Homo sapiens: one gene and its partner. The protein of the gene in region 1 interacts with the protein of each later gene in a pairwise test. Each region holds a gene or a part of one and is shown on either strand. Other genes may lie near its edges. The genes, in order: BTN2A1 and CTXN3.

Region 1 (3,819 bases):
GGTAATGAACATCTATAGGAAACATTAAGCAAGGAAGGAATAAAGAGGCAATGTGAGACATTGCAATTCTTAACAGAATGGTCAGGGAAGACTTCACTGTAAAGATGGGAATTGAGCCATCCCATCTGATGGCAAGGAGTCATCAGATGCTTAAGGACTGAACAACCCAGCTACAGGAAGAGCATATGCAAAGGGCCTGGGGAAGGAACATCTCTGGCAGTTTCCAGGACCCCCAGAAGGTGATGCTGGTGTGGCTGAAATGGAGTGAGTGCAGGAAGTGAAAGGAGATGAATTCACAGAGGCAATGAAAACACATTAAACATGGCATTGTAAGCCACAAACAGTCTTTGGTTTTTAGGGCGAGTGACGTGGAAAGCGTTGGAAGGTTTTGAGCTAAGAAGTATCATGATCACACTAGGGCTGGTCTGTTGAAAATAGACTACAGAAGGTAAGGGCAGAATAAGAAGGAGGGCACCGCAGTATTCCAGGCGTGAGTGATGGTAGCTTGAGGCAGGGTGGTGGCTGTGCCGACTCAGCATGACGGGTTAGCTTTATTCATCCTGGTCCTTCCCATGGTGACTGGTTTGCTACCTCTGGGCCTTGGCCCTGGAAGCCATTGAGGTGTCAGCCAGGTGTGAGCCAGCATCACTTTCTCCATCTGAGTTTTCTGAGGGAGAAAGCAGGAGAGCAGGTGGCTGAGGAGCTCTTCAAGTGTGCTCCTAGGGGCACTCTTACCCCAGATGTTCTGTTTCAAACTAAGTGGATATTTCTGGCTGCCTTTTCAGAATCCTTTATGCCCAGTGTGTCTCCCTGTGCAGTGGCCCTGCCTATCATTGTGGTTATTCTGATGATACCCATTGCCGTATGCATCTATTGGATCAACAAACTCCAAAAGGAAAAAAAGATTCTGTCAGGGGAAAAGGAGTTTGAACGGGAAACAAGAGAAATTGCTCTAAAGGAACTGGAGAAAGAACGTGTGCAAAAAGAGGAAGAACTTCAAGTAAAAGGTAAAAGAGGCTGAGTATGGTGGCTCATGGCTTGAATCCCAGCACTGTGGGAGGCTGAGGCAGGCAGATCACTTGAGCCCTGGAGTTCGAGACCAGCCTGGGCGATAAAGTGAGACCCTGTTTAATTAAAAAAAAAAAGAAAAGAAAAAGAGTAGAAGGACAGTTCACCACCATAGAAAGGACACAGCTCTCCCAGGTACCAGCATACAGAAGAGAGAGGAAATGCACAGCAGCAGCAAGGACTTGGAACTCTCATGTCCTTGGAATGAATCTCTCAGAGCTTTCATTCTTTCACTCTGCCCACCTTGCATTCATTCATCTGGCTACATAAAGTACTAAATGGTTGAGCAAAAGCAAGTGTAACAATGTGCTGGTACTACCCAGCCACCTGATCATACATAATTTCTGGTTTCTGACAGTGCCCTAGGCATGAGGGAAGGGAGATGTTGCTGTTCATAGAAAGGACGGTTCCTGCATTGTTTACTAAAAACCCAACTTCTTTTAGTTCTTCTGTCAAAGACATGATTTTCTTTGTTTGTTTTTCAGAGAAACTTCAAGAAGAATTGCGTAAGTTTAGCCTTTCCTTAACTACATGTACAATTTGAGTTCTGCTCAGCAACATCTCATGACATTCGTCTCTGTCTGTCCCTTGCAGGATGGAGAAGAACATTCTTACATGCTGGTGAGTGCCTCTGATGTTCCCTCAGATCTCAGCTTTCTCCACACTAGCCAGCTAACAGGACTCCTTAGAGGAGATGAGCAAGGGGCCCAGGGCAAGGTGGGGACAGCAGGGAACGGGGGTCAGTTCATCAACAGTGTCCCAGCAATGATGCATCATGTCTCTTCTGTCAGGGAATCCCAGCAGCTCTCAATCCACCCTATGGTTTACATCCCAGGATCCTTTATCTTTTGGAGTAATTTAATGCATGATTACCAGAGGTGTCCCATATATAGTAGCCTTCCTAAGAGTTACATTTCAGTAGTTGTTGTTCTTTGATCCTGGATGAATTTGAAAAAAGACAATGCTATCTTAGCAGCTTATATCCTGGGGATGGTGTAGACTGTGCCAAGTTGAAGACCCATGTAGGGAAGAGGCCAGGAGGGTCCCTAGTAAGCCTGACATAAGGGTGTACCAATAGGTGGCCAGAAATGCCTTTCTGCTCTTAAGAGAACACTAATACTTTGTGTATAGCCTGCCGTGGGAGGGATTTCAGGTGGGTGGGAGAGCACAGAACCCAATTGCCCACTCCCAGTGAGCACTTTTCATCTTATGATTCAGCCCCTCTGCCCATAAGCACCACAGAATCCAAGCTTTACCAGATACCATGGCACATGGACCTTTCCTCTTTAGGTGAATTTCAAAATTGCCACTGTCAACTTGGGACAAAATAGCAAATTGTCACAGCCAGACATATTAACTTGGGGAATGGAGGAAATCATTTTAACACAATAGAAAAGTAGACTGAATAAGTAAGAATAAATACAGATGGGAGAGGTCTGCAGAATGCCCGGAGTCTGGAGCATTTCTTGTACCTACAGAAGTGATATGTGAAGACATCAGACCCATGTTGTTGAAGCAAAACTGGATGGGAATAGTTACTCCCTACATTTGCCCACAGACCCCTCAGGCAACAGGTTTTCTTTTGGGGACATTTATTCTCCTTCTTCATTTTTTGAAGGGTGCCCTTGTTAGTCATTTAAGTCAGTTGTGATCTGGTAAAAGGAACACATAGGACCAATGAAGAGACCCTTTATCCTCCAGGACAGTGTGAAGGGAAAGACTCACCTTAGTTGATCCACCGGGGAGAGGAGGAGCAGGACATAAAGCCTTTGTGCTGGTTTAAGCCAAGTTGGAAAGTTTCTAAGTAAAGAAAATCCCAGAGATCATAGGTCTTCATTTGGGGTTTTGTTTTGTTTTGTTTTGAGATGATGTCTTGCTCTGTCACCCAGGCTGGAGTGCCATGGCACAATCTGGGCTCACTGCAACCTCTGCCTCCCGGGTTCAAGCAATTCTCGTGCCTCAGCCTCCTGAGTAGCTGGGATTACAGGTGTGCACCACCATGCCCGGCTAATTTTTGTATTTTTAGTAGAGATGGGGTTTCACCATGTTGTCCAGGCTGGTCTCGAACTCCTGACCTCAGGTGATCCACCTGCCTCAGCCTCCCAAAGTTCTGGGATTACAGGCGTGAGTCACCACGCCTGGCCAGAGATCATATGTCTTGGATAGAAAAGGGAACACATCTTAGAATGCTGAGAGAAAGTATAAGAATGATTGATTTTACTTCATTTGCTAAACTTTCCGGATTTCTTAGAGCTCCAATTCTTCTCAAACTGAGAGAACTGCTTCTGTCTCTGGAGAGACAGAAGTGCAGCTTCAGTAATTCTCAGTGTGTGAGCTGCCTAGGATCAGAGAGCCTTCATGGAAGTGGCCACTACGTGGGGATCCCTTCAGAGATATCTGAGACCTCTCTGGGGATCAGGAACCACACAATCCCCAGGGTTCCTGAGACCCCAGGCCTAAACCTGAGACTTCCTCTGCAGTTGATGTGGTCCTGGATCCAGACACCGCTCATCCCGATCTCTTCCTGTCAGAGGACCGGAGAAGTGTGAGAAGGTGCCCCTTCAGGCACCTAGGGGAGAGCGTGCCTGACAACCCAGAGAGATTCGACAGTCAGCCTTGTGTCCTAGGCCGGGAGAGCTTCGCTTCAGGGAAACATTACTGGGAGGTGGAGGTGGAAAACGTGATTGAGTGGACTGTGGGGGTCTGTAGAGACAGTGTTGAGAGGAAAGGGGAGGTCCTGCTGATTCCTCA
Region 2 (3,819 bases), on another chromosome or scaffold:
TAACTTTCAATTTCTGGCTGATTTTTATATTTCAGATTCCACCCATCAACACGGAGGCCAAGGAAAATTTAATGAGCCAAATAACTTATGGCTCTTCAAATTACAAGATCTGTGGGTTTTAAAGTGTCATTGTGACTTGAACTAGCTGTCTTTCTTTCAAACAAGACTTACTTCAAATGTGATGGTCCAGCACCTCAGTCCGGCTTGATGACTTGTGCTTTTGTTTTTCCTCTCTGCATCAGTTAGCTGGCACCTCGGGTTTTGAATTCAGTTCCCTGGACTGTAAGGGGTTGAAGATTTGATTTAACTTATATTTAAAAAGGCAATGATCCCAGAACAGCAAATAATTCCTCAAGGAGCTTATTGTGTAATAAGGAGGAGATAAACACTGTCAAGACTCGCACTGTAATCAGTGCTGCCACCGAGTACAGGTGATGTCTCTGGAGATGGAGTAAAAAACACCCCATCCTTGGTGAAGGGAAACAAAGAAGGCCCCACCGAGAAGTGGGTATTTGGTGTGAACCCTAAGGGAGGGAGAGATGGAAAGAAGGAGAGGAAAGATGCTTGCCTCATAGTGCTTGCCTCCCCTCCTCTCCACAGATGGAAAGAAGGAGAGGAGGCAAGTATTATGAGGTAGGAAACCTGGAGGTGTTAGAGCACAGCAGGTATTGGATCAAGCTGAAAAACAGACAAAATGAGGACATTCTCCACAGGTGTCCACAGACTCAGTTACACGGAAGTTTATTCTGATCAACACATTGGCCATTTTACTGAGAACTAAATGTGATTTGGTGTTGACTCCTTTCTAAACTTATAAAAATAAAACTCAGATCTTAAAAATTCCATTGTCAGCATAGGTCCTAATCTGTGGTCCGGAAAACATCTGGGCATCAGGCCCACAAGGGGGTTAATGGGCTGTGGACACTGGGGTGCAAAGGTTTTCTGAGGGGAAGAGTGGTGAGATCTGGGCTTAAAAAGATGAATCGAGATGCAGTGTGTAGGAAGCATGGGCAAGGGATGAGGAACGCCACTTTGAAAATTACTAAAACTAAAGCAAGTGACTAAGAGTGTGAATGACCCTGGCTGCAATGACTACGCCTGCTGGGCTTCGTAAGTAATTATGGGTGTCTTCTGTTTTTGTCAGTATCACAAGGGAGCTTGACTCGAGCAAGGGAATGTATTATATGACTTTTGAAAAGGGTATCTTTTAATTAAGGTTTTCTTTAATTTTTCAGTATTAAAATTAGACTCTATTTCCTGAGCACCCACAAATGGACCTGACAAAGGGAAGACACAGATGTACTGCGTGATGAGGAAAGCCTATCAGGATTAAAATATGGCTGTGAGTAACTGTGGTCCTTCTTTATACTTAAAATAGCTGCCATGTGTTATTATGAAGGCTTCTGATGGTGGTATCAAAATCCTTTGAAATAATAGACTTGCACAGATTTCCCTGGTCATCTAAAAGAAAGATGTCATTATTCAGTTAAAAGCAAACTTGCACATTTTCTAAGAATCATTTTTACCAAAAAGGGACATTTTACTGCGAGACAGACATTTAAAAATTTACATGTCTTGAGATATTTTTGTATTGTGGTAGCAAAATGATTACATTTATTTCTTTTTCTCCACCTTATAATAGCTGATGCTTCCTTCAACTTATACATGCTGTTGGAGCTTTCTAAATCGGTAAATTATTGATTAGCTGATTGCAGGTTTAAAATCAAGCAGACTCTTCCAGGGATTTCAATCAGTCCTGGGCAAAATTGTGAATTAGTCAGCATTGGTTTCTGGATCTCTTTATCCCTTTAGCAACCACCTCCTGATTGTCTCTACCCACCATCCCTCATCCCTCCCCTAGGGCTCTCCAGTGGGCCCCCTGTTCACACCACCATGCCTGTCTTCCTGTCCTGTCCAGGAGTCCCTCATTCCCAGCTAGGTCTTCCTTCAATCGCCTTTCTACTTACCACACTTTCCCCTCCTTCAGGTGGGAACGGTCCTCACAAATTCCTGCTAGCACATTAATGTGCCACTTTCCTAGGTAAAATATTGCAATTTAGTAGGAGACGTTGATACTTTGACCAAAAGCAGTTATTTTTATAGGAACTTGGGCACCACAGTGTGCTGGGAGAGGAGAGGATTACAACTCCCAATGTGCTACAGAGTTTTAAAAATTCTTTCACCTCTATTTGCTCATAATTTGGTATATCAGGAAAGGTTTGGTGATGAAGACATTGGAGTATACACATATTTATATTTTAGGAGGCTTCTCAATGCAAAGAGGGTTAACCTTTCCTTTGTACCTTGCCTTTTAATCAGTAGAGGATGGTAAAACTTCAAATTAAAACTGATTTTAAAAATCATTCTAATACTTGGCATCCTCGTGCAGAATCTGAGTCCCAGAGTCATTCCTAGGGTGACTGAAGAGGCAGATATGGCAGATAATCTGAATCAGGATGAATAAGTTATTTGCTGGAATTTCTGGAATGGTTGCCTACCACTGCAGCCCCCAAATGAATGGTTTGCTCGCTGTAAATCCTGAGTTGTGGGTGAAGCCTAGAAAGTATGAGAGTTGATCCAGGAGAGAAGGATTTGGCATTTGCCCTGTATGGAAGAGAAGGCTGGGGAAGACTACTCCTGGGGTCACAATGTTGCTCATCAAGTGGAGATCCCCGGTGGGAAGGGAGGGACTGAGCAAGGTATCACCGTCCTAGTCAGCCTGCTTGTGCTGAGGAGGTCATTCTCAAGGACTCAAAAGGTTCTCTATCTAGTTCTTACCTGAATTTTTGGATTTCACAGATCCAGAAATCCTTACATCAGTTATACAGTTAATGGTCTTTTCTCTTCTTATATTTCCTTTTTGGATTATATGGTGTTTTCCTAAAGAACTTTCTGAAAATGGCCAGGCATGGTGGCTCATGCCTGTAATCCCAGCACTTTGGGAGGCTGAGGTGGGTGGATCACCTGAGGTCAGGAGTTCAAGACCAGCCTGACCAACATGGAGAAACCCCGTCTCTACTAAAAATACAAAATTAGCTGGGCGTGGTGGTGCATGCCTGTAATCCCAGCTACTAGGGAGGCTGAGGCAGGAGAATCACTTGAACCTGGGAGGCGGAGGTTGTGGTGAGCTGAGATCGCACCATTGCACTCCACCTTGGGCAACAAGAGCGAAACTCCGTCTCAAAATAAAAAAAAAGACTTTCTGAAAATGCATACCTGTCTCGGCTTTGTTGAGAATGGACAAAGAACAGGACTCTGGCCTCATTTGGGCTGGATGGAAAAAGGGCATAGAATGAGATTCTGATAATCCTGCAAGGAGAGCAGGAATCAAAGTGAGAGGATCCTCAGTAGGATATGAAAAAGCAAGGAGTATGTCAGGGATGGCCTCAGCATCTGCTCCTCTGTCATCAGCGGGCTTTCCTTTGGCCCAGCCCTTGGAGAATTTTATATTTCATATGATTAAGTATAGTTTGAATATTTTTGGTGGACACAGATGGCCCTGGTCTGATGTGCTGAGGAGACCTGCATTGGAGGCTCTGGCCTCCCTTCCTGCCCCTCCCTTCCTGGCCCACAAGGAATTAATACCCAAGGCTAGGAGGGTGCTTAGAAACAAGCAAACCAAAACAAAACCCAGTGCATTAATATCCTCTAAATTCCTAAAGAGCTTATTTTTTTAAAATGCGGTCAAATTTTTATCCCAATCTTACTTCCAAACAAACATGAATTATAAATGAGTTTTGCAACTGTTATAGCCTTTAAAAAAATTCAAAGTGATAGAGCTGCAAAAATGATGCATTACCCGACTGGTAACTCCTTCCT

What was found.
Region 2: the proteins of BTN2A1 (region 1) and CTXN3 interact in binary tests that used the Homo sapiens proteins (3 or more experiments, as listed by UniProt).

The regions. Positions count from the first base shown.
Region 1 is NC_000006.12:26,464,400-26,468,218, forward strand, and holds part of BTN2A1 (butyrophilin subfamily 2 member A1 isoform 1 precursor), read left to right. Parts: intron 1-785; coding exon 786-1,007; intron 1,008-1,553; coding exon 1,554-1,574; intron 1,575-1,662; coding exon 1,663-1,689; intron 1,690-3,319; coding exon of another isoform or gene 3,320-3,342; exon of another isoform or gene 3,343-3,548; coding exon 3,549-3,819.
Region 2 is NC_000005.10:127,652,082-127,655,900, forward strand, and holds part of CTXN3 (cortexin-3), read left to right. Parts: intron 1-171; exon of another isoform or gene 172-280; intron 281-968; exon of another isoform or gene 969-1,110; intron 1,111-1,235; 5' UTR 1,236-1,342; intron 1,343-3,819.